3 separate regions of the Homo sapiens genome follow, and regions 2 and 3 are each linked to region 1. The links come from fine-mapping of genetic effects on gene expression. A gene starts in region 1. Each other region holds a variant in brackets. All regions are shown on one strand. Distances are from middle to middle.

Region 1 (8,173 bases):
ACAACAGCTGAAAGAACGCCCTCCCTGATAGGGCTCAGCAGCTTATTTCTATCAGAGTTAAGTGGTCTAGCACCTTCCCGGCTAAAAACTGAACGCCCGTTCACAGGCATAGCTTTTAATTCTCCACATTTCAGAGATGGAGGGAGGGGCAGGTACTGAGTCAGTCAAGACTTCAGCAAACCATAATCGAGATTTGGGGTGCCTTCTGACCACCCATCAGGTTTCCAGGAACTAACCACTGTAAAGGGATCCTGGGGGGAAGCTTTGGTATCATGGAGTAAAAACATACATTAAAACACCCCCTCCCTCCTGCCTGTGTTCTCAAAAATCGCCGTCTTGCACAAAGAATATCCTTCAAGAAGAACGCTCCAAAAGAAAAACAGCCTATTTTAAAATGCCCGACTCCTGCGTCGGCGAAGGCCATCCCTGCTGTTTTGAATTTCAGAACATTAAAAACACAAAACTAGAGAAGCTATACAGTTCAACTGCATAACATAACAAAATGGATTATTTCTCCCGTGTCTTCTAAACCGTACTTATCTTTTAAAGATAAAAACCCTCCTTTGTCCCCCCAGCCACCACCTAAACGACTTAGTAAAGGGAGCCGGAAGGCTTTCGCCCAATCGAGTCCGCTGAAAGTTTAGAAAACAAAGAGCAGGAGAGCCCAGATCTGTGGAAGGTCCGGCCCCAGTCCGCGTCCCACTCGGCAGTAAACACGCGAACCACGATCTGCTCTCGTTCCGTCGCGGACTCATTTCTTACCAGACGTTTAAGGATTTGTTTATAGAAACAGCCTTTCTGAATTGCCCCGGTGATGGGGCCATACAACCTCCGCTGCCTCCTCCTTCCCCGCCTCACTCGTGAAGGCTCAGTCGTGATTTTTTCAAAGTTAATCGGCACCACCTGCATACCCTCGGCAACCATTACTCACCAACACGCCCTCACCGTTCCCAGTCCCAGTTCTGCGACATTTAAACTTTTAATCGTGTTCAAATTACCCTACCATCTTGAATGTACCAGTAAGCCACACTTTCAACTTTTTCAGAAGAATAAAACCCCCACCTCCTCCGGCCGTAGACACCGGGGGGAGTTCTCGCTCCCCGCATCCCCGCGCTTCCCTACTAACCCCCACCCGACACCACCAAAACAAAAGCTATCAGATTGCAAAAGACAGCGAATGTGGAGCGACACTGCTTATTAACTACGTACAAAGGAAGTGCGGGGCGGCAGAAGAGAGGGCGACACGACGCCGACCACAACAAAACCAAGGCCAGGGCTCCGCGCTCGCAAAACACAACACCCTCCCCGCGCCGCCGCAGACCCTGGCGCTGAAACCACAGCGTACGACACCTCTCGCCAGGGACGGGCGTCTAGGTGTCCCCGTGAGGCGGCGACTACACCCCGCGCTGCGAGCACGTGTGTCGGAATGCACGTCGGCTCCGACCACACACCCACCAACGCACACTCGGATGCGGCCCTAGTACCCCTCCATCCCCCGGCCCGGGAGAAACTGGGAGACCATCCCAGAGCCCTCTGAACTGGGGACCCAGTGGCGCTCCCCGGAAGAGACAAGCTGAGGAAGACTCCCGGCCTCGCACTTCCCGGGGGGCTGCCCAGAGAGCGCTTCCCCTCACCCCACCGCCCAGCCCCGGGACGCCGGGGGCAGGTAACCCAACGAGGAGCGGGCCAAAGTGACGGGCAAGGCCAGGAACCCGAGGAGCCCGAGGGGCAAAAGCACGTTGGGCGACGGGAGGCAGCGACGGGCGCTTGGAGACGTGTCCTGGGGCTTCGGGGCCTCTCCGCAGGGCACCTCCCCCCTCGAGGGCAACTCGCACCCCGCGGGCCGGGCGGCTGCCCGCTCCCCACTGCCCGGTCAGCCCCAGCAGCGGAGACGCGGTGCGGCCCAGGGTGCTGTCGCTGCTGCCTGCGCGCCGCAGGGGATCAGCGCTGTGTGCGGAGAGGCTCTTGCGCATGGAAGGGGCGAGGTGCGGGTCGCGGGGCCCGGGAACCGCGGAGCCCGCCCCGGCACCAACTTCCCTACCGAGTCCTCGCGCCTAGCCGGGAAACACGGCTGGGCTGTCAGGACGGAGAAAGAGAAAAGCCCTTCCCGCGCGGGGATGCGCGGAGCCAGGGCCCGCGGGGCTCCAGACGAACGAGCCCGGGTCCCGGGTCCGCTGCAGCCTCCCTCCCGGCAGAGCCGCCCTGCGCCCCACCCCGCCGCTCCCGAGCCCGGGGGCCCGACAGCTGCGACGGTGGCAACTCGGGTTTCGCAAACAGGGCGCAGCCCCTCGGAGGAAAAGTTCCCGCAGTGGCCGCGGGCGGCGGGCACATACTCACTTTCTCCACTCGTCGGCCAGAGCGAGAGCGCGGCGGAGAGAAACAGGAGCCCCCACAGCGAGGTCGGGGACCCTCCTCCGGAGCCAGACTTCATTCCTTTTATTTGGGATGAAATTCCCCTTTCTCAAAAAAAAAAAAAAAAAAAAAAAAGAAAAGAAAAGAAAAAAAGGAAATGAAAGGAAACAAGTCTCAAACTCAGTCTTCGCTCCCCCTCCAAAAACAAGGGCGAAGGAAACAATACTCCGAAGGCGGCGCCGCCGGGGCCCTCCGGGTGCGCGGACGGGGCGGGCGGCGCGGGGCGGCCCCTCAGCGCCGGCAGCAGCGGCCCAGGGCTCGGCGGAGTCGGGAACCCGAGGCGCGCCGGGGCGGGCTGTCGGCGTCGTCGGCCTCCATTTTCAAACCCGGAGAGGCAGGAAGGGGGGAAAACTGCAAAGAAAGGGGGCAAAGCCCAAATCTGCCTAGGCGAGGAAAAACAAGCCCGGCCCTGGCCGCGCGGGAGGCGGCCGGACGCCCGAGCTTCCGCCGCGGGAGGGCGCGACGCAGTTCGCAAGATCGCCCCGAAGTCCGGGTCACAGGCGAGGCCGGCGAGGGGCAGAAACGCGGAGTCAAAATGAATGAGCGGCTCCCCCTCCTCCTCCTCCTCCTGGCTCCGCTCGCCGCCGCCTCCTCCCTCAGCGCCGCCGCCGCCGCGGCGAGCTCCTTCCCAAATCCAGGACACACACAAAGCGGCGGGCCGGCCGCGCCGCGCTCAGCACTCCCGCCGCGCCGCCCGGCTCTGCGCCGCCGCCCGCCCCGCGCCGGCCCCCGCCCGGCCCCCGCCCGCCGCCGCCTGCTCTGCGCGGGGGCTCCGGCTCGCTGAAGGTCACAGCCGAGGCGAGGCGCGCCGTGGAGCTGCCCCCGCGCGGGAGGGGCGTGGAGGGCGCGGGGGGATCCGGGGAGCGGGGCCGAGGGTCTGCGAGCGCCGGCCGTGGGCAGGCTCGCTGGCGGCGTCCCTCTCGCTCTCCCGCCTCTCTCGAGTTCGCCTGGTGCGCTCGCTCCTCCTCGGGTTTTTTCCCTTTTTTTTTCCGCTCAGCGGAGTTAATGCTGGTAAACAAGAGCCCCAGCCTCGCCGCGCCGCCGCCGCCGCTGCCACACACTGGGGGCTCGCGCGCGCGCGCGCGCCCTGGCCCGCGCACACGCGCCCGCTCGCACACTCGAGCGGCCACCGCCGCAGCAGCGGCGCGCCGAGGGCCCGGCCCAGGCCGGCGCGCGCAAAAAACCGGAGCCCGGTTCCCCAAGACGTGCGGAGCGGAGCCCGGGCGTGGGGCGCGAGACTGCGAGGCGCCGCCCCCATCTCCCGCCCCACCGCCTCCCGCGCGCACACAGAGACACGCGCGCGTGCCCACCCGCTCCCGCCCCCACCGCACTGCGCCGGCCACCCCGCACGCGCCCTCCCCTCCCGCCCGACTCCAAAAACAATGCCCCCGCCGCCGGTCCGGTCTCGGCGGGGCAGGGGTGGGTAGCCAGGGAAAGGCTAGGCAGGGGAGGGGTGGGCAGGAGAGGGGAGGGGTGGGCGGGGAGTGCGGGGCTGGGAGAGGTTCATTGAAAACAACAACAGCGCGGCTGGAAAGCGCGTTTCCCCGGTTCTTGAAAAGCTTCATTGTTTCTTGCAGCTGTTGCAAAATAAATAAATGCGTGCATGCGGCATTTTTTTCGCTGCGTACTGGAAAGCCCGAACGTGGCGGAAGGGGCGCACCTGGGAGAAAGGGGACCCCCCCCCCAGGCTACTACGCCGGGCACTTTCACGCCAGGCTGGGGTGCCCGCGGCGTTGCGACCGTGGAGCCCGGAGTTTGGGGGCTCAGGGGGAGCGGAGGGGGAAGGGCGCGGCCCGTGTGGCTCGGCCCAGAGTGGCTCGAGGAGAGAGGACCCCGCCGCCCCTCGCGGGCCCCGCGCCCCGGAAGGGGGGCCCAGACAGGCAGCGCCGCGTGCCCCGGGCGCGTCCCCGCGGCGGCCGCCAGAGGGCGCGGCGGGCGCTGGGGAGGGCAGCCCGCGGAGAGTCGCCTCCCTCCCTCCGGGGGAGGAAATGTGGGGGCCCGGGCTGGGGGCCGACTCGGCTGGGTCGCGCTGGCGTGGCCTCCCGGACCAGCCGCCCGCCCTGAGCGCTCTCCGCGGCCTCGCGCAGCTCAGGGCTCCACCACGTGGGCGGCTGCGGGGAGCGGCCGGGGCGCGTGCACGCTGCGGGTCTCCGAAGCTCGGGGGGCGTGTCCGGGTCCCGGGGCGCCGAGGAGGGGGTGGAGGCTGGGGCCGGGAAGCCTCCCTTGGCCGCGGTCCCGACCCGGGAACACGCCGCATGCACTCGGGATCAGCGGCTACTGCGGAAACCCACCCGCACCTGTCTCGGGTCCTCCCAGGCACGTTCCTCTTGCTTCGTTTGCTACGTAAGTGACTGGAAACCAGTACCGACCCTAAGTCTCCGCGGTTGTTTTCTTGAATGTGCAGGAGGAGAGGTTTCCCCAAAGCGAGACTCCCCTAGGACTGCCATCTAATGAATAAATGCTGCGGAGACCAGGTCCTCAAAGAGGGAAACAGCCCAGCAGTGGCAGGAGAGAGGAGTTTGAAATACGTGGACTTTTACAAACAGTGATTGGACCATGTGTCGCCCTTAATGTGGTCCGGTTTCATGACTCAGGCTAATTGATGCCAGTAATAAATTTTTTTAAGATAGCTAATAAAAGAGTTGTGAATTGTCGAGATAAGAAGTGGTTGTCTCAAACAATCGGGTAGGATGGTAGAAGGGACCTGATGTAAAGGAAGGTAGTAGGTTTCTTTTACTCTCTAATTCTAAAATACTTCTGCATTAGAACGTGTATCCATCGTTCGTAAATAATTTTTTAAGAGCTGAAAACAAGTCAAAAGCTATCATAACGGAAACTTAGCCCTTTTTTTCTAAAGTTGTTTCCTAGATCATTTTCCTCCTTGGAAATTTCTAGCTCAATTCAGAGTCAGTTGTATAGAAAGAAAATAAACCTTGTTTTACCTAAGAAAGTTATTCATATGATGGGATGGTTTTGTTTAACTGAAATTCAGCTTGATTTTTAAATAAAGAGTTTCAGTTTTGGATGTTCCTAGATTTAACAGTGAAATAAATTTATTAGAATCTTAAAATGTATTATTTAAAAATTAGGCACTACACATGAAGAATTAAAGTCCAGTCTACTAATTTTTAAATATTTCTTAAGTTCTCTGCATGAGGTTGGTCTTGATTCCTGCAGATCCACTCTGGAGTTAAATGCAAAGGAATATTGATATATAATTTCATTATACTTGATTTCAGAATTTTTAATACATACTTGTAAGACAAAAATTTAGAGCTGATTTTTAAAAGGCTAGTGCTAATATAAAATCTTCAAATACTACCCAATGTATTTTTAGTATTAGTAATAAATATGCCTGTTTATTTGTCCCCAAGAACATAAAGAGGTCTATAGAATTTTTAAATGTATATAGGTTGTTGTAGGGGTTGTAGGATTTGTTTTTGTGTGTTTTTTTTTTACTAAAATGATTTTTATTTGTGAATTTTTTAAATGTTTGTGTTTTCCTGAAGTAGTAGGAAATCAATCGTATTAAGTTATTTTAAACAGTGAAGTGGGAGATGTATCATTATATAGCTTAATATTTAGGGAAAAAAAAGGAACAAAAATTTAGGTTGTCTTTACGCTCTAACTTGACCACATGGACAAAGGAGGTGATTTGTATTTCTTCAATGATTATATTTTACATACACAAGTCAAACTTATTTTTTCAACCTTGAAATAAAATCATGTAGACAAAAATTAATTGGAGTCTTTGCTTTATACCCACATTGACAATGCACCAAACTTTTTATTTTATACCATTTTACTCAGGTATCTTATAGGTTCTCCCTCTTTTGGAGCAGAAACTGATTGCTTGTTTTCATTTTTTAAAAACGCCGTTTACTTGATAACAGTTTCATCTCAAATTATTCTGCTAAATGTACCAGACTCCCCAAAAAATGTAATGTATATCATATACATCAAGTGCAAACGTGAGAAACAGCACAACAATTGACAAGTATCAAGTAATACAGTATATTGTGATGTATTCGCAGAAAGGAATGTTAGCAGCAAAAGTGAATAAACTACAGCCCCACACAACATGGGCAGATCTTTGAAACACACTGAGTAAAAATATACAAATATCAAAAACGCACACAGCGTAACACCATTTTGATAAAGCTCTTAAAAAGCAAGGAAAACTTTAAAAGTTACAGAAAATTTTTTTTGCTTTAAATAATAAAATAATATTTTTCCTTTGTTTTGCTTTTGTTTTAGCAAAAGAATTAATGAAGGATGTGAATTCCTTTGGAGAGGATGAGAAGCCCATAGGCACATGGGTTTCCATTGTAATTTGGAAATGAGTTCACTCTTGGATTGAGTGACGGATTTACAAATTTCCATTTTATAAGTATGCTTAATAACTAACACATGTTCTACATATTTTTGTATGTATAAAACATTAAAGAAGATAAATAAAAATATGGGAGAGATCCATGAAAGAGATCATTCTGGTTTTCCAATGGGAGTCGTTCAGATTTCGAGCTGTCCGTATAAATAACTCAGAAGCATTAAAGATCTACTAAAATAACACAGTTAATCAAGGTCTGATCCTTAAGATATTTCAGAAGAATGTCCACACATCTAATATCGATGCAATTTAAGACAAAAATCAAAAGACAAAAAATTTAAAAGACCTCACTTCACAGGTAATAAGCTTCATTAAGAGTGCATTATGTCAACTGTTTGACAGTTTCTTATAAGGTAAAACATACAACTAACTTACGATCCAGCAAGTCTAGCCCTAGTTATTTACCCAAAAGAAATGAAAATTCCACAAAAATACTTCTATGGGAATGTCAATAGGTGCTTTGTTCATAATAGCAAAAACTAAAACAACCCAAATGTAAATCAAAAGGAGAATGGATAAACAAATCATGATATATCCATTCAATGCAATACTGCTTAGCAGTAAAAAGGAATGGACTACTAATCCATGCAAAAACATAAATGAGTCTCCAAAGCATAATGTATAAGCCAAAAGAGTACATACTGTATTAGCTCATTTATGTAAAGCTCAAAAACAGGCAAGATTGATCTAGAGCTAGAAATCAGAATCATGGCTGCCCTGGGTGGGTAGAGAGGGAAAGTTTCAAATGACTAGGGAGAGGCATAAAGAACTTTCTTGGGTGATGGCAATGCTCTATATCTTGATGGGGTGTTGGCTATGCTAGTATATGCATTTAGCAGAAACACATCAGACTGTACACTTAAGATGGGTGCACTTCATTCTGCATAATTGTATCTGAATGTTAAATTGTTAAGATTGTATTATAATTTAGATAGTTGCAGCTGTTCTAAAAAAAATGTTAGCACAATGCTTCCCGTTTTTACTATTAGGTGAGTTAGTAGAGATGCTAAACTCCAACATCCTTGCCCACAGCTGTCTACAGATGTGTATACTTTCAGTGTGTATCTGCCTAAGGTCTTTCCTTAGGGGCATTAGCTGTGGAAGGCATCACATGGTCTCCACAGAGCACCCCAAGGGCAGGAAAAATACAAGTGATGCTGTAGCTGATTCCTATCCCCACACAGCCACAAGCAACAAGAGTCTCAGTCTTGTTGAGGATCTGTTTATACTCAACTTGAGAAGATTTTCTATTTTAGCTCTGCATAGATAGCTGGCTCCCAAGGCATAAATGCTACATTTCTCCATGATGCTTTAAAAGCAACGTGGAGGTTTCAGAGAGCATTTGCGCAGAGACAGCTGAGATAATGTCTT
Region 2 (8,182 bases), 100 kb after region 1:
CCAGCCCAGAAAGGGGCTCCCACAGTGCAGCGGCGGGCTGAAGGGCTCCTCAAGCGTGGCCAGAGTGGGCACCAAGGCCGAGGAGGCGCCGAGAGCGAGCAAGGGCTGTGAGGGCTGCCAGCACGCTGTCACCTCTCACTTCTAAACTGCCAGAGAATCCCTGAGAGGAGGCTGGTCTTCCTGACATTCTGTTCACACTATTAATTTGTTTTGCAAACCTTTTTAATGGAAGGAGAATTATATAAACCACCACCCTGCTCCTGTGTATACTATTCCACAGCATCAGCATCACTTGATAACTTGTAGAAATGCACCTTCCTCGCTGGGTGTGGTGGCTCATGTCTATAATGAGGGAGGCCGAGGCAGGAGGATGGCTTGAGCCCAGGAGGTGGAGGCTGCAGTGAGCCATGACTCCACCACTGGACTCCAGCCTGGGCGACAGAAGGAGACCCTGCCTCTAAAAAGAAAGAAAGAAATACACATTTCTGGGGCCCAATCTAGAGCGATCGAACATAATTCTGGGCGTCGGGCTCAGCGCTCTGAGTTTTGACAACCCCCCTACGCCCAGCTCATTTGAGAATGCCGGTCTGAGATGACTGATTCCCAGCTTGGAACATTTGAGTTACTGAGGTGATTGATTCTAAGAGTCAGCTGGAGCCAGGACTAGCAGACTGGGAATACATTCGTTTAACAATGGAATACCATTTTCAAATCATCATGCATTTCTTTTCTGGGTGCCATCTCCTGTGCAGGGGAGGACTGGAAAGACAGGGAAATTCTGGTAGCCTTGGGAAGGCAGAAGGGTGGGGCTTGGCTGGCCAGGGGACGGGCGCGGAGGGGGAGGGAAGAAGAGGAGGAAGCCGCGGGGCCTCACAACCCATCTGGTTGGAAACGTCCTGCAGTGCCGCCCGAGCCGCAGGAACCGGAGCCAATTACAAGTTTATATAATAGAGTCAGTCTCCCCGGGCCTCCCCTCTCCGCCCCACCCCTGCCGGCTTTGGGGATGGGGGAGGAAACGCTTTCCGTGAAATACAGGCTGGATCTAGGACGGAGGATGCCTTTTCTGGATTGACAACTAGGGGCCAGTCCTGAGTGTGAGAAACTCCTGGGGTCCTGTTTTGGGATCCGGACACCTCGGGCGCCGCGCAGGCCTCCTTGTGCCTCGGGAGCGGCCCCGCCTACGGAACGGGACCTGGAAGGGAGGTGTCCGGGTCGAGCGTTCGCGCTGCTCCCCGCCGCACGGTGTGAGCTCGCCGGGTTTATGTAACGCCTGCCCTTCGCGGAGGACCGTGTCATGTCCGAATCGCGGAGGACGGAGGAGGCGGGGGCCTGGGCCGCGACGCCCGCCCACGTGACCGTCAGATGACTGGGGTCTAAGTTTGCACGAGCTCCTTTACCGTAACGCTGAAGGCTCCTCATCAACATCGGCTCTTAGTCATCCCCGAGTGACATTTGATATGAGCAACAGCTCAGGACGGGGAAATGGCAACGCGGATGCTGATGGAGACGAGGAACGGCTGCTGCGACCGCCTCTGATTTGGGCTGGAACGGGAGTTTATGCGGAGTCAAGGAAACCCACCGCGAAGGGTGCCAGGGAAGACCAGGGCACTTTTCTAGACAAAGAATCTTAGATTCTTTGGGGCTAGATGCAGAGAGTCCGGGAGAAACTGTTCACCGGGTGCCAGGCAGGCGGCTGACCACGCAAGCCACGCTTCAGATTTGTGGGTTGGTTTTAGAAGTCACATGAGGTCTGCCTGGACGCCCCTCCCGATCACGTCAATTATCTGTCACAACTTCTCTGTGCGCCCCAGGGACCAGCCCCATGCCCCCAGCGGGGGAGTTGGTTACAGCTGCAGAATCCCGGCCCCACCCCGCCTCCAGAGCACGAGCCTGCGCTAGAAGGATATCACCAGGGGATGGGGGGGAATGCGAGGGGGGCGGGGAGGTGGTCACGGATGCAGAGGCTGTCCTGGCTGCTGAGGCAAAAAGCCCGTCCCAAGCCCTGCATGGGCTCCTACTGCACTTCAGGATTTGGGGGAATGCAGAATCGTGGTCTTTGAGTTTTCATTAATTCAATAAAGATTTCTCAAAAGCCTAAATTCTAGACCCAAGACAGTGGGAATTAAACAGGGCTGAATATGACGCTATTGGCTATACCAGGACCACGCCTGAGCATTGCATGCACGCTCCAGCTATGCATAACTTATTTATTTTAAAAGAAGGAAGGAAGAGAGGGAGGGAAACAAGGTGTTTCTTAAGAGTAGAGGAGGGGAGAGGCAACTTGTTGCTTTCACTGGCAACAGTTAACTCCATAAGCAATTTCCTCACTTAAAAGAAAAACAAATGAAGTAGAGTGGTAGGCTTTTGAAAGGAGGAGCAGAGAGCTCCGGTGAGTGGAAACCTAGCTTTTATTCACCTTAGGGCCTTGTTAAAACACATTTGCCTTGAGATAAAAGGGTTTCTTTTGGGACGATCCCAAAATGACTTTGCTTGATTCAATTAAGCAAGACCTAACGAAAGAGAATTCCAGCTTAAGATACGCATCATCTCACCAGGTGAGTTGTAAATACATTCTGACCAGGTTTCAGAGGCAAGCTCTTGAAAATTTAATCTATTTAAAAACTGCATATCCTTGCCACAAATTGCTTTGAAGAAGATCGCTGAGCTGATTGCATGCTGAGATAATTATTCTGTATCACCACTTAGGGAACAAGATTTTTTGATAAATACTACAGTGTCAGTCTTTGTTAATGACTTGGGAGGGGAAGGAAAGGATTCGATATAGCTGAGGCTGGTTTTATTTTCTTGCCTCTTTCCCATGAACGCAGGCTGTGGGAAGCAGGTAGAGTCTTGGTTTATGAACTCTGAACGCTATTGAGTAACCTATTCACCTGTCAAATCCCTAATCCCCGCATGAAGGTGTACAGATGGTATTGGAGTAGAACACGAAACTGAGAGGTGAAGCCAGCCGGACTTCTGGGTCGGGTGGCAACTTGGAGAACTTTTATATCTTACAAGAGGATTGTAAAACGCACCAATGGGCGCTCTGTAGCTAGCTAGAGGTTTGTAAAATGCACCGATCAGTGCTCTGTAAAAATGCACCAATAGGCGCTCTGTAGCTAGAGGTTTGTAAAATGGACCAATCAGCACTCTGTAAAATGGACCAATCAGCAGGACATGGGCGGGGACAGATAAGGGAATAAAAGCTGGCTACCCCCCAGCCAGCAGAGGCAACCTGCTTGGGTCCCGTTGCATGTTGTGGGATATCTGTTCTTTTGCTCTTCACATTAAGTCTTGCGGCTGCTCACTGTTTGGGTCTGTGCCATCTGTAAGGGCTGTGACACTCACTGTGAAGGTCTGCGGTTCCATTCTTGAAGGCAGCGAGACCAGGAACCCACCAGAAGGAACAAACCCCAGACACAAAACCAGTCTCCACCTGCGCAGGGCCCTGCCTGTGCCTTACCTGCTTCCCCTCCTGGAGACTCCCACCTGTGAATGGATAGATGGTAGTGTGTTGCTGGGTGCTGATGGGGGAAAGCCCTAGCCTGTACCCCCGTTATGGATAATATGGAAGTCAGGGTTCTCAGGTGCTGGTGAGCCAGGCCTCCCCACATCCTACGTATGACAGCACAGGCTCATTTCTCAGTGCTCTGCCCCACTGAGCCTGGATGTGACCTCAGAGGAGTCCTTAGCACTGTGATTAATCTCTTCATGCTTTTCTTCCTTTTTTTTTTAGACAGGGTCTCTCTCTGTCATCCAGGCTGGAGTACAGTGGCACCACTGTAGCTCACTGCAACCTCCGCCTCCTGAGGTCAAGTGATTCTCCCACCTCAGCCTCCCTAGTAGCTGGACTACAGGCGTACACCATCACACCCAGCTAATTTGTGTATTTTTTGGTAGAGACAGGGTTTCGCCACGTTGCCCAGGCTGATATCCCAACTCCTGGCATCAAGAGATCTGCCTGCCTCAGCCTCCCAAATTGCTGGGATTACAGGCATGAACCACTGTGCCTGGCCTCATTCTTTCAATAACTTAATAAATACTTATTAGGAATCTATTCTATACAAGTCGCTGATAACATAGAAGAAAAGAGAAAGAAAGAAATATAGATGGATGAATGGTGCATAGAAATAATACAAAGCACTAGGACAATGGTTAGTGGTTGGGAGGAGTAACTTTAGATATTGTAGTCAAGGAAAGCCTCTCTGAGGAGGTAACATGAGGAAGAGTTATTTCAAAAGCCAGAGGGGAAAGCCAGGCCCAAACAAAACAACAAAACAGGCCGGGTG[C/T]GGTGGTTCACACCTATAATCCCAGCACTTTGGGACGCCCAGGTGGGCAGATCACAAGGTCAGGAGTTTCAGACCAGCCTGGCCAATAAGGTGAAACCCTGTCTCTACTAAAAATACAAAAATTAGCCAGGCATGGTGGCGTGTTCCTGTAGTCCCAGCTACTCAGGAGGCTGAGGCAGGAGAATCACTTGAACCCAGGAGGCAGAGGTTGCAGTGAGCCGAGATCATGCCACTGCACTCCAGCCTGGGTGACAGAGCAAGATTCCATCTCAAAAACAAAAACAACCAAAACAACAACAACAACAACAAAAACTGTGTGTGCAAAGGCCCTGAGGCAGGAATGAACCTAACATGATCAAAAACCTGGCTCAGAACATGGACCCAGTGAACCACTTTGGACACTTGATGGGCATTTGATGGGTTGCCTCCGTGTGATCTCTAATTCTTGATGACTAGGCTGAAGTGGGAGCTGGACTCATAGGTGTGTAGACGGGGGTCTGTAGTCCCATGTGGCTATTCATTCTCACCGAGGCAGCATTTCTGGTGAAGTTATAGCTGGATGGTATTTCATGGTCAACTTTAGTTTTAATGGGAGGTATGTGAGGAAGCAATATAGTATAATGGCTAGAATCAGAAGATCTTGATTGAGATCATAGCTCTTCTTACTGGTTTTCTGACCATGGACAAATAGTTTACATACCTTATACCTCAGTTTTCCCTTGGAAGTAATGATAAAACTATCTGTCTCACGGGGCAAAAAACAAATCACTGAATGGCTAAATCACCAAACAATTCACCAAACTTAGCAATTTACCAAAGCCTTGCATTAAACCAGTTTTTAGATATTTTAAATGAATATGAATATTCTTCAAAATATACGTACTTATTATGTATTTGATATACATTAAGAATATTTAGAAATGTAAAGCATGTTTGTAGCTCATTAATATATTCTTCATGAATATTACAGTTTAATAAAGGGAGTGTTAGAAAATAATCTCTATATGCTTAAATTATTTTTTAGCAATAATCATAACAAAATTAATAACAAAAATAGAAAATAAATGCAAACACTGGAAATTTCCTTATATTGAATCTTTACATAATCTTGTCAATAAAATGAATAAAAATAAGTTATCATGCAAAAAAAGGGAAAAAACTCAATCCAGCTATTCAATCAGTTTTATATTTACTAAAGATTAAACGTTGATATTTTGGTTACAGTCTCATGTAATATTATTTTATGTAAGTGTTCAGTAACTAGTAAGTGAATTTTAATAAAACCAAATTGTGTAAAAGGTAGAGTTTAGTCAATTACTAATGTAACAATTTTTTAAAATTTGTCCTTTAGTTTTGTTTTGTTTTGTTTTGTTTTGTTTTGAGACAGAGTCTCGCTCTGTTGCCCAGGCTGGAGTGCAGTGGCACTATCTCTGCTCACTGCAAGCTTTGCCTCCCAGGTTCACACCATTCTACTGCCTCAGCCTCCTGAGTAGCTGGGATTACAGGCGCCCACCACCACATCCGGCTAATTTTTTGTATTTCTTAATAGAGATGGGGTTTCACTGTGTTAGCCAGGGTGGTCGCAATCTCCTGACCTCATGATCCGCCTGCCTTGGCCTCCCAAAGTGCTGGGATTACAGGAGTGAGCCACTGTGCCCGGCCTTGTCCTTTAGTTTAAAACCAACAACAATTAGAAGAAAAGAATAAACTTAAGTGTCAAATTTAGTCAAATATTTTATGCATGGACTAAAATTTGCATTCATCAAACAAAAATATTACACCTTGTACTTCTCACTGTTTCACTGTTTCAAATTTTAAAACACAAATCAAAACTCACACAGTTACATAGAGTGAGAGAATTGAGCTACATCAAATTCTGTTTTCTTTCTCCATTATCAGTGTGCTATCAGTGTTTACTTTGATTCTACACTTTAAAGGCAGCAGGCATAAATAGTATCACAGGGCGGGAAATGCTAGCTGAGCCACTCCACATTGTTATAGTAACAAACATCTCAAAAACAAACAAACAAACCCTATTGCTTGGGTTCATCTGTGGAGGACTGGCTGTAATTAGGAATTTTCTGAATTAAGTTACATGTAGAATGATAATGCTTATTAAAGGATAAGTAATTAGAATGTGTTAATTTGAAGCTTACATGCATATCACTCAAACTCAACAGTAGTCCCTGCAATTGTTTAGAACTTAAACCAAAGAATATTTGAGGAGGGGAGGTGACTTTTATCACTGATGTTATTTAGAACTGCCAGGGCATGGCATGGTAAAGAGAAGATCAATTTTTGGTTTGTTTTATTCTTGTTTTTAAATTATTGCCAGTGTACCCCTCCTACCATGCTCTCAGTATCCTACTGCATTTAGTAACCAGTAACACCATTACTCTCTATAATTGTGGTATCTGCTGTAATGGATGTCACAGGGTCCTCTGAGGTAGAGGGTCCAGGTGCACCTAGGAGGACTTCCTTGAAGAAGGGATTTTTTTTTTTTTTTTTTTTAAACAGGGCTCTGTCACCTAGGCTGGAGTGCAGTGGTGCAATCATAGCTCTCTGCAGCCTCAAACTCCTGGGCTCAGGTGATCCTCCCACTTCAGCCTCCTGAGTAGCTGGGACTATAGGTGCATGCCACTAATGCCCAGCTAATTTAATTTAATGGTTTTTTTTTTTGGTAGAGATGGGAGATCTTACTATGTTGCCCAGGCTGATCTTGAACTCCTGGCCTCAAGCAATCCTCCGACCACGGCCTCCTAAGTAGCTAAGACCACAGGTGTGAGCCATTGCATCCGGTTAAGAAGGGATTTTTAAAGAATGATTTAGTATTATTTACATACTATAAAATTCACCTCTTAAAGTTTTGCAGTTCACAGAGTTTTATAACCATCAGTACTATCTAATTTCAGAACATTTTTATCAACCCAGAAAGAAATTCTGTCCCGCTGAGCAGTCATTTTCCAGGACCCCCACCCCAGGCCCTGGCAACCACAGGTGTGCTTTGTGTGAAGAGAGGCTCTTCAGCTGGGACCTGAGGTGTGGACAGAAGTCAACTTGTCAGGTAGTGAGGGAAGGGAGACAACAGCGTGAACAGTATCTAGCAGAGCAGAGGTGAAGGCAAGAAATCAACAGACCTGCGTGGCCAGGGCACAGAATATGAAGGTGAGTGGCTTGAGCATGCCGGGGAAGACCCAGCCCACGGGGACTTTGCTGGTTCTCCTAGTAGCAAGGGGGCCCTGAGGTCTGACGCAGAGCCTTCCCTGCGATACCGGCTCAGAAAACACGGCAGGAACTACCCTGTAAATACACCTTTCATAGTCTTTTAAAACATCATAAGGATTGCTTTATTTTATTTTTATTTTTAGATATTTATTTATTTATTTTTATTTTTGTTTTTTTTGAGACGGAATCTCTCTCTGTTGCCTAGGCTGGAGTGCAGTGGCGCGATCTCTGCTCACTGCAACCTCCACTTCCCGGGCTCCAGCAATTCTCAAGCAAGCCTCCTGAGTAGCTGGGACTACAGGGTGCACTCCACCACGCCTGACGAATTTTTGTATTTTTAATAGAGACGGGATTTCATCATGTTGGCCAGGCTGGTCTCGAATTCCTGCCCTCAAGTGATCCACTCGTCTCGGCCTCCCAAAGGGCTGGGATTACAGGCATGAGACACCGCGCCCGGCTGGATTGCTTTATTTTAAATATTTACAACATAACATCAGAAATAGGAGAGACATATACGTGTGCTCCCGCCGTTGTGGTGTAATCTTACTGTCTTGTAGAAATCTGGCTTGGACGTTTAGACTGCACAAATAGCCATGCTAAACCTGCAAATCAGCTGTAACCGATTTTCTCAGGAATCACCAACCCCAAACTTGGAACTCCTTGTGGAG
Region 3 (8,182 bases), 310 kb before region 1:
CTTTCGCCACTGGTTCTTAAGGAGTGGATCTCTGGTCCACATCTCCCAATGCTGCTTAGCCCAGGAAATGAAGACAGCTGACAACACAGAGGAACATTAACGAAAAGAACAAACCCCAAACTTGAAATGCATAACTGGGACTGCTGGAATGGGCCAAGGCATACCACGGCGGGTCACTGTCACCAGGAGGGCGCCTGTGTTTTAGAAGGGAGTGGCCAACACCGTCTGGCCACCCTGGAAGGAGCCAACGTGACAGCTAAGAACACTAGACAAGCATCCTAGCCTTCTCACCCATCGATCTCAGTGTGATCTTGCCACAGAGCCACTGGCAAGCCATTCGGCTGCCAGCCTGCAGAGGTGGACTGCTGTGGGAAAAGCTTCAGTGGAACAAACTGGCCTAGAATCTGGTGCCAGAGAATAGTTGGCTCATAAATCTTTTATCCCAAAGCACCCCAATGTGCACCGAGCATCTCGCCATTTGGTAGTTCCACAGTGACTGCTCTTCTATTTTACGAAGCCACTTTTCGTACCATTGAAATGTGACTCCGCATCTTAAGAAACAGGCCAGGAGAGGCCAGGTCGGCCACGAACACGGTCTTCCATCTTCCAAGGAGGAGGCTCGTTCCAAAGGTATGTCAAACGTCATGACATCCCACGAAGGAGACCTGGGGTGGTCTGGGTCTTGATCAAGTTCAACAGTGTCTCCAGTACACACCAGCTCCTGCTGCCTCAGGGAAGGGCTGTGTGGGAGAACGTCTTAATGCTCACATCAATTCCATGATGTGCCTCAGTGGTTCATATGACTTCAAGCAGTGTGAGCTGCTGGCAGAAGGAGGTTGCATGGAAAATGCCACAACTCAGCTTAAGATTATTTGGAACACACAGAGAAAAATCAAGAGGCAGAGAAATCAGCATGAAGTTAGGCTAGAACTGTGGATAGATGATGCCTTGGTATAGTCAAGGTGGGTGGGTTGGTCCAGTAAAGTGACTGCACCATCACACAAGCCAAGTTTTCTCTTTTATTGAGGTGTTTCTGAAGCATTTGCTATGATGGGCACTACACTGTTAGTGTTTTCTACTTAAAAGCTACCTACATAAAACAAAAACAAAATGACATCAGTAACTCGGACAGTTTAAACAAAACCCTTATAACCAGCTGAATGATCTGTAGAAATCCAGTTGTGGAAACCGGTAGGTATGTGCACGAGAGGAGAGGCCGTTATTCCAAGGGGTCACCTACAGTGTGGAAGAACAAAACCCTGATCCAACAGTATTTCTCAATGACCTTAAGATCCCCGGGGTCCTGGGAGAGATGGGTCGCGTTCCAGCAGGAGGCTCCTGAGCGCCTTCACTTAGGCTGGAATTGCCGAGGAGCCATCCACGCTTAGGCAAAGCTGCCCGCCACACTTCCCAGCGAAATCATCAGTGCCTGTAAGAGCAGCTGCTGGAAGAGGGGAGCGAGCCGTCTGTCCTGTGAGCAGCAGGACCAGGGAGACGGAGGTACAGCCCTGGCGGGGGGGGCGTGACGCCACGAGCCTCGGCGCCGGCCACTGGGCTTTCCAGCCGGAAGGTTTGGTACATCTCTGTCTACCCCTAGGGAAGGAGGTGAGGGAGAAGTTGAGAGGGCAGCCTGGAGGGGGAGGGGACTCTGCTCCTGCGTGTGTTCTATCAGGGACTGGCTGTGAGGTCAGGAGCCTCTGCATTCTGGCGCACAGGCTGGGTGACTCTTGCTCTCCAGCTGCTGCTGCAGCTGCACCTTTGTGCTCAATGAATGCAGCAGCCATGGCCGCACGGTCCTGCCTCAGCGCGAGCCTCCTGCAGGGATGGAGCAGCAGCAAGGGGAGCAAACCCAATGCCCCACGCCTTTACCCTGGGGATTCGCACAGAGATGGTGCTGCCTGGACACCTTCCTCTCCTCAGAACCTGAGGAACCACTGCTCTCTTAAGGACGAAATGTGTTGGTCATTCCATCTGCACAGAAGCAGTTTGTTCCAAAGACAACCAGCCAGGGACAGCCTGGTGGCTCCCCCAGGTGTGCTCTGGTGCCCTCGTTGGCCTCACAGGGCCACCTGGCTAGGAGGAGGAGAAATCTAACACCTTGGTGGAAACCAAGATAGAAAACAAAACAAAAAAAGCAACACAAAACAGGACATCTCAGAAAAAGGCAAGCTGTCTGAAATGAGCAGAGAGGTGAGTTAGTGTTGCTTTGACCCCGGAATACAGCCTGGCTTCCCCCTGCATCACCTGGGTGTGGCGCCTGTGGCGTGGATGAGGTTACCAGTATCAACGGCCTATTGTCAGGTGCTGAGAAAGGTGAGATGTATTCTTTTGTCTATATACACATATAAAAAATAAGAGTGAGGTAGATAAATGTTTGGGGGAAAAAAAACCCAAAAAATCAAGAACTGTCCCATCACTCTCACACACACACACCCCACACATACACACACACACACCCTTTCCTTGAAATTTAAATTCATAATGGGGCTTTTCTACAGTGATTGAAACTGGTAATTTATCACAAAATAAATTAAAAGAAAACTCCTACATATAATACCTTTTTTTTTTTTTTAAAGGGAACACGCTATGGGATAGAGACTAGAGAAAGCAGTGGGACAAACTGCTGACCAGCAAAAAAGCCGTATAAACTTTCTTTTCTGTGTTGAATCTTCAGTCACAACTAGCAATCACCGTATCCCAGCTTTGTTCTTACTCCTAAACATTTCTATCCCAGAAGCAACTCTTGTGCTGTCATCTCTCTGGTGAGAAGTGCTAAAAATGAAACAAGACAAGACCCCTGGGCCCCAAGGACCTGGATTCCTGGCCGAGGGAAAGTGGGCCAGCACCACAGCCCTGGTCCCCCAGCAAGAAGCAAAGGGGCTCTTGGGCCACCGTGGCGTCTGTGCTGCCTCCACCTAGCACTCCAGCGGGCACAGCCCTGAGGGTGCCGCCCTGGGCCAGCCTGGATCCCGGGGTCCCACTCAACGCCAGTGCGAAGGAGTTCCCTTGGGATGTTCTGGTTCCAAAGACAGGTCAGTCGGTCCGGTGAGGGGGGTGGCGAGGGCCACAACAGGCCCTGCCGGACCACGCTCTGCTGCTCCCTTGGACTCAGCAGCTGTTTTTCGTGGGATGGAAGGATTAAATAGCCATTAAGAAAAATAGTAATCCAAATGCCTAGTGTCTGCGGTTAACACTGCTGTTGTACCCAAGAATTAAAAAAATATATATATATGTGTGTCACAACCTAAGCAAAGGCAAGGGAAAGAGAGGGTGAGGCTTCTCAACCACGGTGAGTGGAAACACTGAACAAAGACGTGTGAAATATTTAACCTTTGTTTTTCTGACCTGAGTTTGTATCATGTCTTGCACTGTAACAGGCTCCAATGCTGTGAGGGCAGGCTGGGGAGAGGAGCGCGGCCCTCTCAGGATGGGTGCCCGGCCTGCTTTCTGCCTCGTGCCCAGAGAGCCTACGGGTTAGAAAACAACTAAAGGGGCAGGTGGGAGCAGGGATGGGGGATGTATTTATAAAAAGGCATCCAACAGTTCATGGCAAATTATGTGATAGAAGTATCCATTACCGGGAAAAGAGGAAGAAAGTCACGCACTCTAGTACAAAGCATAAGAAGTTTCTTGGAGTGAGCAGAAAGGGGAGAGGGTGGACCTGAAGGTTTTCATAGATTAAATCCACAAAGATCAAGAACAAAAAAAATAGCAGCTTTTTTTTTTCTGTACAGACGTATAGATGAATATCTGAACCGTAAAAAAGTTATAAAAGTGACATTAAAGACGATGTGTATGCAAATGTTTCATGGTCTAACATAGAACTGTAAGACCCATGAAGAAGTCCTAGGAACAGAGAAAATGTCAACAAAGCTTAGAATGCTTGAATCCATTGACTGCTTTTCTTCTTACTGCTGTTGTGGTGTTTGAATTTCTTTCCTTGCAAACCTGCATCAACAGTGGGGCTGAGTCCCTGGAAACCCCTTCCCATCTGTGTCCTTGGGGGCGGGCGGGGGAGCTGGGGCTGGGAGAGAAGCAGGCATGGGGCCCCTTGACTCCAAGCCTGTCCGCCAGGCTGCTTCGGGGCCCATGGCCACCAGATTCTTGGGGGTTGGGCAGGGGGCTGGGGAGGCAGGGCAGGGAAGCCGGTTCAGCTTCTCCCCACCTTCACTGAGAGAAAGACCTATTGTGTCCAGTTCCCCCAAATAATAATCTAGTCAGAAGCAATGAGACCTGTGTGCCTGTGGCCTTGAGCAGCACAGCAGGGGCAGTCGGATGGACGGAGTGTGTCGCCAGCGTGTCTCTCAAATGGAGCAACCAGCTGCCATGCTCACCCATGCCTCCGGACACGAGGAATCAGCGCCGGGCCGATGAGGGAGAAAGTTCAGGATTTTGGCAAAATTAGGCAGCGTTAAAATGGTAACAGCCTTGGATGAACGATGGCCCTTTGTAAATTTCATGTCCCTAGAAAGGTGAAAGATAAAGGTAAAAATTTCCATCTCCACGTGTTTTTTTGTAATGACCCACGGTGTCAGGCGGGTGTGTACAGTGGTTGGATGGGGCCAC[AGG/G]GACAGCCACTTCCTCAAACTGATAAAAAGGGCTTCCCAGCTGGACTTGTGGCAATTATTTTTCCGTTATGAAGCAGAGAGGAGAGAGAAAGGGAGAACAGGGAAGGACAGGGACAGAGTGAGGAGACTGGTTCTCAAGTGCTCTGTTGCTATTAAGTGTTGTCATTAAGGTTCTTAAAGGCCCATGTCAGTTAAGGGTTTGGGCAGGGAATAAAAAGCTGCTTGCATATTGAAAAAAGGAACATCCCAAATGTGTTTTACTGCAGAGAAGCTGTCTCCCGCGGGCAGCAAGGGCAGTTCTGAAGATCCACTGAGGTACAGGAGGCTTGTGAATGGATTGTTAAAACTCTCTCTCCCCCCCCACCCCGCTGCGCGTGCGCACACGTTACTGTTTGCACAGATTCAGGATCCAAGGATCAGCAGGTCGAAGACTGGGGCAGCGGCAAGGCCCGCTCGTTCTTGCGGCCCCCGTTCATGTGGGCGTAAGGCTGTCTCTCGTCGAAGCTGGCGCGGAGGACCAGCACCCCAGGGCCGGGGCCGTTCTCGGCCTTGTGTCCTGAGTGTCTGTCGGGCAGTGGCAGGGAGGACGAGGAGGCCGAGGGGTCCAGGGGGACGCTCTCCATGTTCTCTGGCTCCAGGTCCAGCTCCTCCGGCTCGGGCAGCTTGTTCTCCTCGCTGTAGTAGAAGGAGACCTCCCGGAAGCCAGGCTCCATCTCCTCTTTGATGCTGCTGATGATCTCCAGGAAGGAAGGCCTCATCTTGGGGTTATACTGCCAGCACATGCGCATCAGTTCAAACCTGCAGCCAAGACACACGGGAGGGGGTCCAAACCGGGAGGGCGCACATGGCCAGGAGGCTTCATGGGCCGCCTGCAGTGGTTTCCCGCATACAAGCGTACGGCGGGAGCACTGAACACAGCCCTGCTGCCCCTCTCCATCCCTGGCTTTCTGCCTGGATGGCCAAGTGGCCTTCAGAGTCTCCTGTTTTACCTCGTACGGTTCCATTCTCTTCCCCCAGAACCCAGAACCACCACGGTACAAAACCCAAACTCTCCTTTCCCAAGAAGGACTAATCCAGGTCCACACTGTCCATCGTGACAGCTGTTATCTATGGTGGCAGTGCTAAGAAACAAAAATAACCAGTTTTCTATCTGAGGCGTCTCATGCAGGCACTGCTGAAACATCCTTTCCAGAATTAGCAGGAAACCCCTGGTTTCTCACCAGGAAGGCTGATGAGTGACCGCAGCTTCCCCAACAGTGCTCTCTCTCCGGTTCCCACCTGTGCTATTTCTAAGCTTCCTCCTGGTGCAGGGCTACCCCTGGCAGACAACCAAAGGAAGAAGGCACTGTGAGGCCAGGCTTGCAACACGAAGAAATGCACACTCCGAGTCTGCTGTCTCCATCTAGCACGTGCTCGCTCCAGCCCTGCACAAGCAAGCCCCAGCCGATGAGCCAGGCTGTTCTGGACCAAACGAGAGGCCCCGTGTAGACCTGAAGCCAGATTCCAACAAGCCAGCAAGGAGAGCCCTGGGCACGAGTCCCCTCCACACGCAAGGGACAGGCAGAACAGGATGACGCTTGTGCTGTGTGTCGGTCGCATCGGCTGGGCTCCGACAGCACCTGGGCTGCAAATACCTGTGAGGCCCTCAGAGTCACATGGAGCAAAGGGAGTCCTGCCGGCTGTGGCCGGGGCTCCCCAAGAAAACAGCCGGCCACACGTGGACAAGGAAAGCCGGCTGCCCTGACCCAGGAAAGGCCCGGGCTTTGACAAGCTTCCAGAATGCAGAGACCCAGCTAAACAGACTTTTGGGGCAAAAAGCAGCTGGCTACCATCCAGGGCTGGCCATAGTTCTGAGGAGTGACCGCCAACAGCCCTCTCTTACATGAGCGTGAAACCAAAGTGCCTTCCTTTCCACGTCTGTTCTCACCAGGAAGTTATCCTCTTTATTTTAAAATTCTGGCTAAAGAGATGCTTTTCCATAAAAGTGGCCACACAGAACTCTCCACATCTAGGAAACTCAAAGCACACCCAGTGGCATCTAGCCTCCTGTCAGGGTGGCTGCTTGACCACAGACTACCTGCCCGTGTCTGGCCTTCAGGGAACATTCCAAGGGGAGGCCCCTGATGTAAGAGAAGCCACTGGGCCTGGAAGCTGGCCTGCCAAGAGAAGGGCTCCTATGGCCACCTGGCAGCTTCCTTCAGGTGGAGAAGGTGCAACCTTGAGGGAGGGTGGGCCTGGGTGTGAGGGAGAGCCATCCAGAATTCACTAGAATTCAGCGTTCTAGAGCCCGGGGGCCTGCGTCTCCACAGGGCCTAACCCGGGGCTGCCCGCCTCTACATCAGCTGCACTGGCATGGGGCCACGCTCCCTCATTTCCATGTGGGCTGCAGCTGCTTTCCAGCTACAACTACCAGCTGAGGACATTAGGACAGAGACTGTGGCCTGCAAGTCTAAAAATGTTTATTTACCACGTCGCCCTTTAAAAGAAGGAAGGGTGCAGGTTCCTGTTCTGGGGAGAAAAGAATTAGACAAAATATGAAGGCCCCCACAGTATGCTTCTTAGATTTGGAGAGTTCCATGTGGCCACTTTTATGGAAAAGTATCTCTGTAGCCAGAATTTTAAAAGTCTACCCCACGGTAGAATGCCATGTGCACGCTAGGTGCCAGGCAGCGAGGCAGTTATGTGTGTGAACTGCTGAAGTCCTCACGAGTTTGTGAAGCAGGTGCTACTGACTATAATATACCCCCATGTTACAGATGAGGGAACAGAAGCACTAAGATACTAAATAATTTGTCCAAGATTACAAAATTCATGAGGGTGGAGCTGGGATGGAGTTCTCTGCGCAACAGAATGACTACACTTTGATCACCAACGATCCTGGAAAAAGGAATTTTTCTCAACCTAAATAAGAGTAACCCTGGGGCCACCAGGAGACCCTCCCTCACCTAACTGTCCAAGGAACAGTCACAGATGTCACAGGGATGTGGTTTGCATTGATAAAAGCTGGCAGCTTGATGACAAATAAGCCTGCCTTTCCAAACTCCCCATCACTTCCTAAGAAAAATGATTGGGGTTAAAAAAATTAAAATAGGCCATAACGACATGAAATGCCTGGGCTGTGAATTCCTCTCCAGCTGACTTACCCCTGGGCAGAAGCGTAACTGGGCCAAGAGCATGAGATGTGCTTGGCTCTGTGCCCTGTGGCCAGGGACCGAGGAGGTGCCACAGGAGAGCAGCGAGGCAGTGACATCAGCACAAACAAGCCATGTGACGCCTCTTTTAAACCATTCCAGAGTAACAACCCTTCCAGTGCTGCCCATGAAAGGAAGTCTTTTTTGCTCTGTGGGATTCAAGACCTTGTTTACTATTTCCACACACACAAAAAATCTCCATTAGACTCTAGAAGGATGTGTGAGCTGATAAAACTCATCTTTTAAAAAGCACAATTTTTTTTTTTTTTTTAACCACAGGTCAGTTCTGGGGAGGCTGGCGCCATCCTTCTCGAATGCTCTCCCCTTTGGGGGACACATACCCAGCCCTTCTCCTGGAACAGGGACAAGACTCAAATGGAATTCCTGCCCTGCTGGGAAGCAGCTTCCTGGGGGCCAGCTGTG

The links. PIP is the estimated chance that this variant, and not a neighbour inherited with it, causes the effect.
Region 2: its variant is fine-mapped to the expression of IGF1R in monocytes (TOPMed, PIP 0.94).
Region 3: its variant is fine-mapped to the expression of IGF1R in whole blood (TOPMed, PIP above 0.99).

What each region holds. Positions count from the first base shown.
Region 1 is chr15:98,643,840-98,652,012 of GRCh38, reverse strand. It overlaps IGF1R (insulin like growth factor 1 receptor), which reads right to left and starts at 3,474. Exons shown (of 21, transcript NM_000875.5): 1 at 2,338-3,474. The coding sequence starts at 2,431. It overlaps IRAIN (IGF1R antisense imprinted non-protein coding RNA), which reads left to right and starts at 1,226. Exons shown (of 1, transcript NR_126453.2): 1 at 1,226-6,150. RefSeq lists silencers at 3,450-3,719, 4,090-4,149, 4,210-4,679, 4,690-4,739 and an enhancer at 4,751-5,372.
Region 2 is chr15:98,541,528-98,549,709 of GRCh38, reverse strand. No RefSeq gene overlaps it. Among named protein-coding and RNA genes, the nearest start is that of IGF1R, 100 kb to the left of the region's middle. The variant C/T (reference allele first, on the strand shown) is at 4,290.
Region 3 is chr15:98,954,245-98,962,426 of GRCh38, reverse strand. IGF1R (insulin like growth factor 1 receptor) reads right to left here. Exons shown (of 21, transcript NM_000875.5): 21 at 1-5,366. The coding sequence ends at 4,985. Among named protein-coding and RNA genes, the nearest start is that of PGPEP1L, 49 kb to the left of the region's middle. The variant AGG/G (reference allele first, on the strand shown) is at 4,567.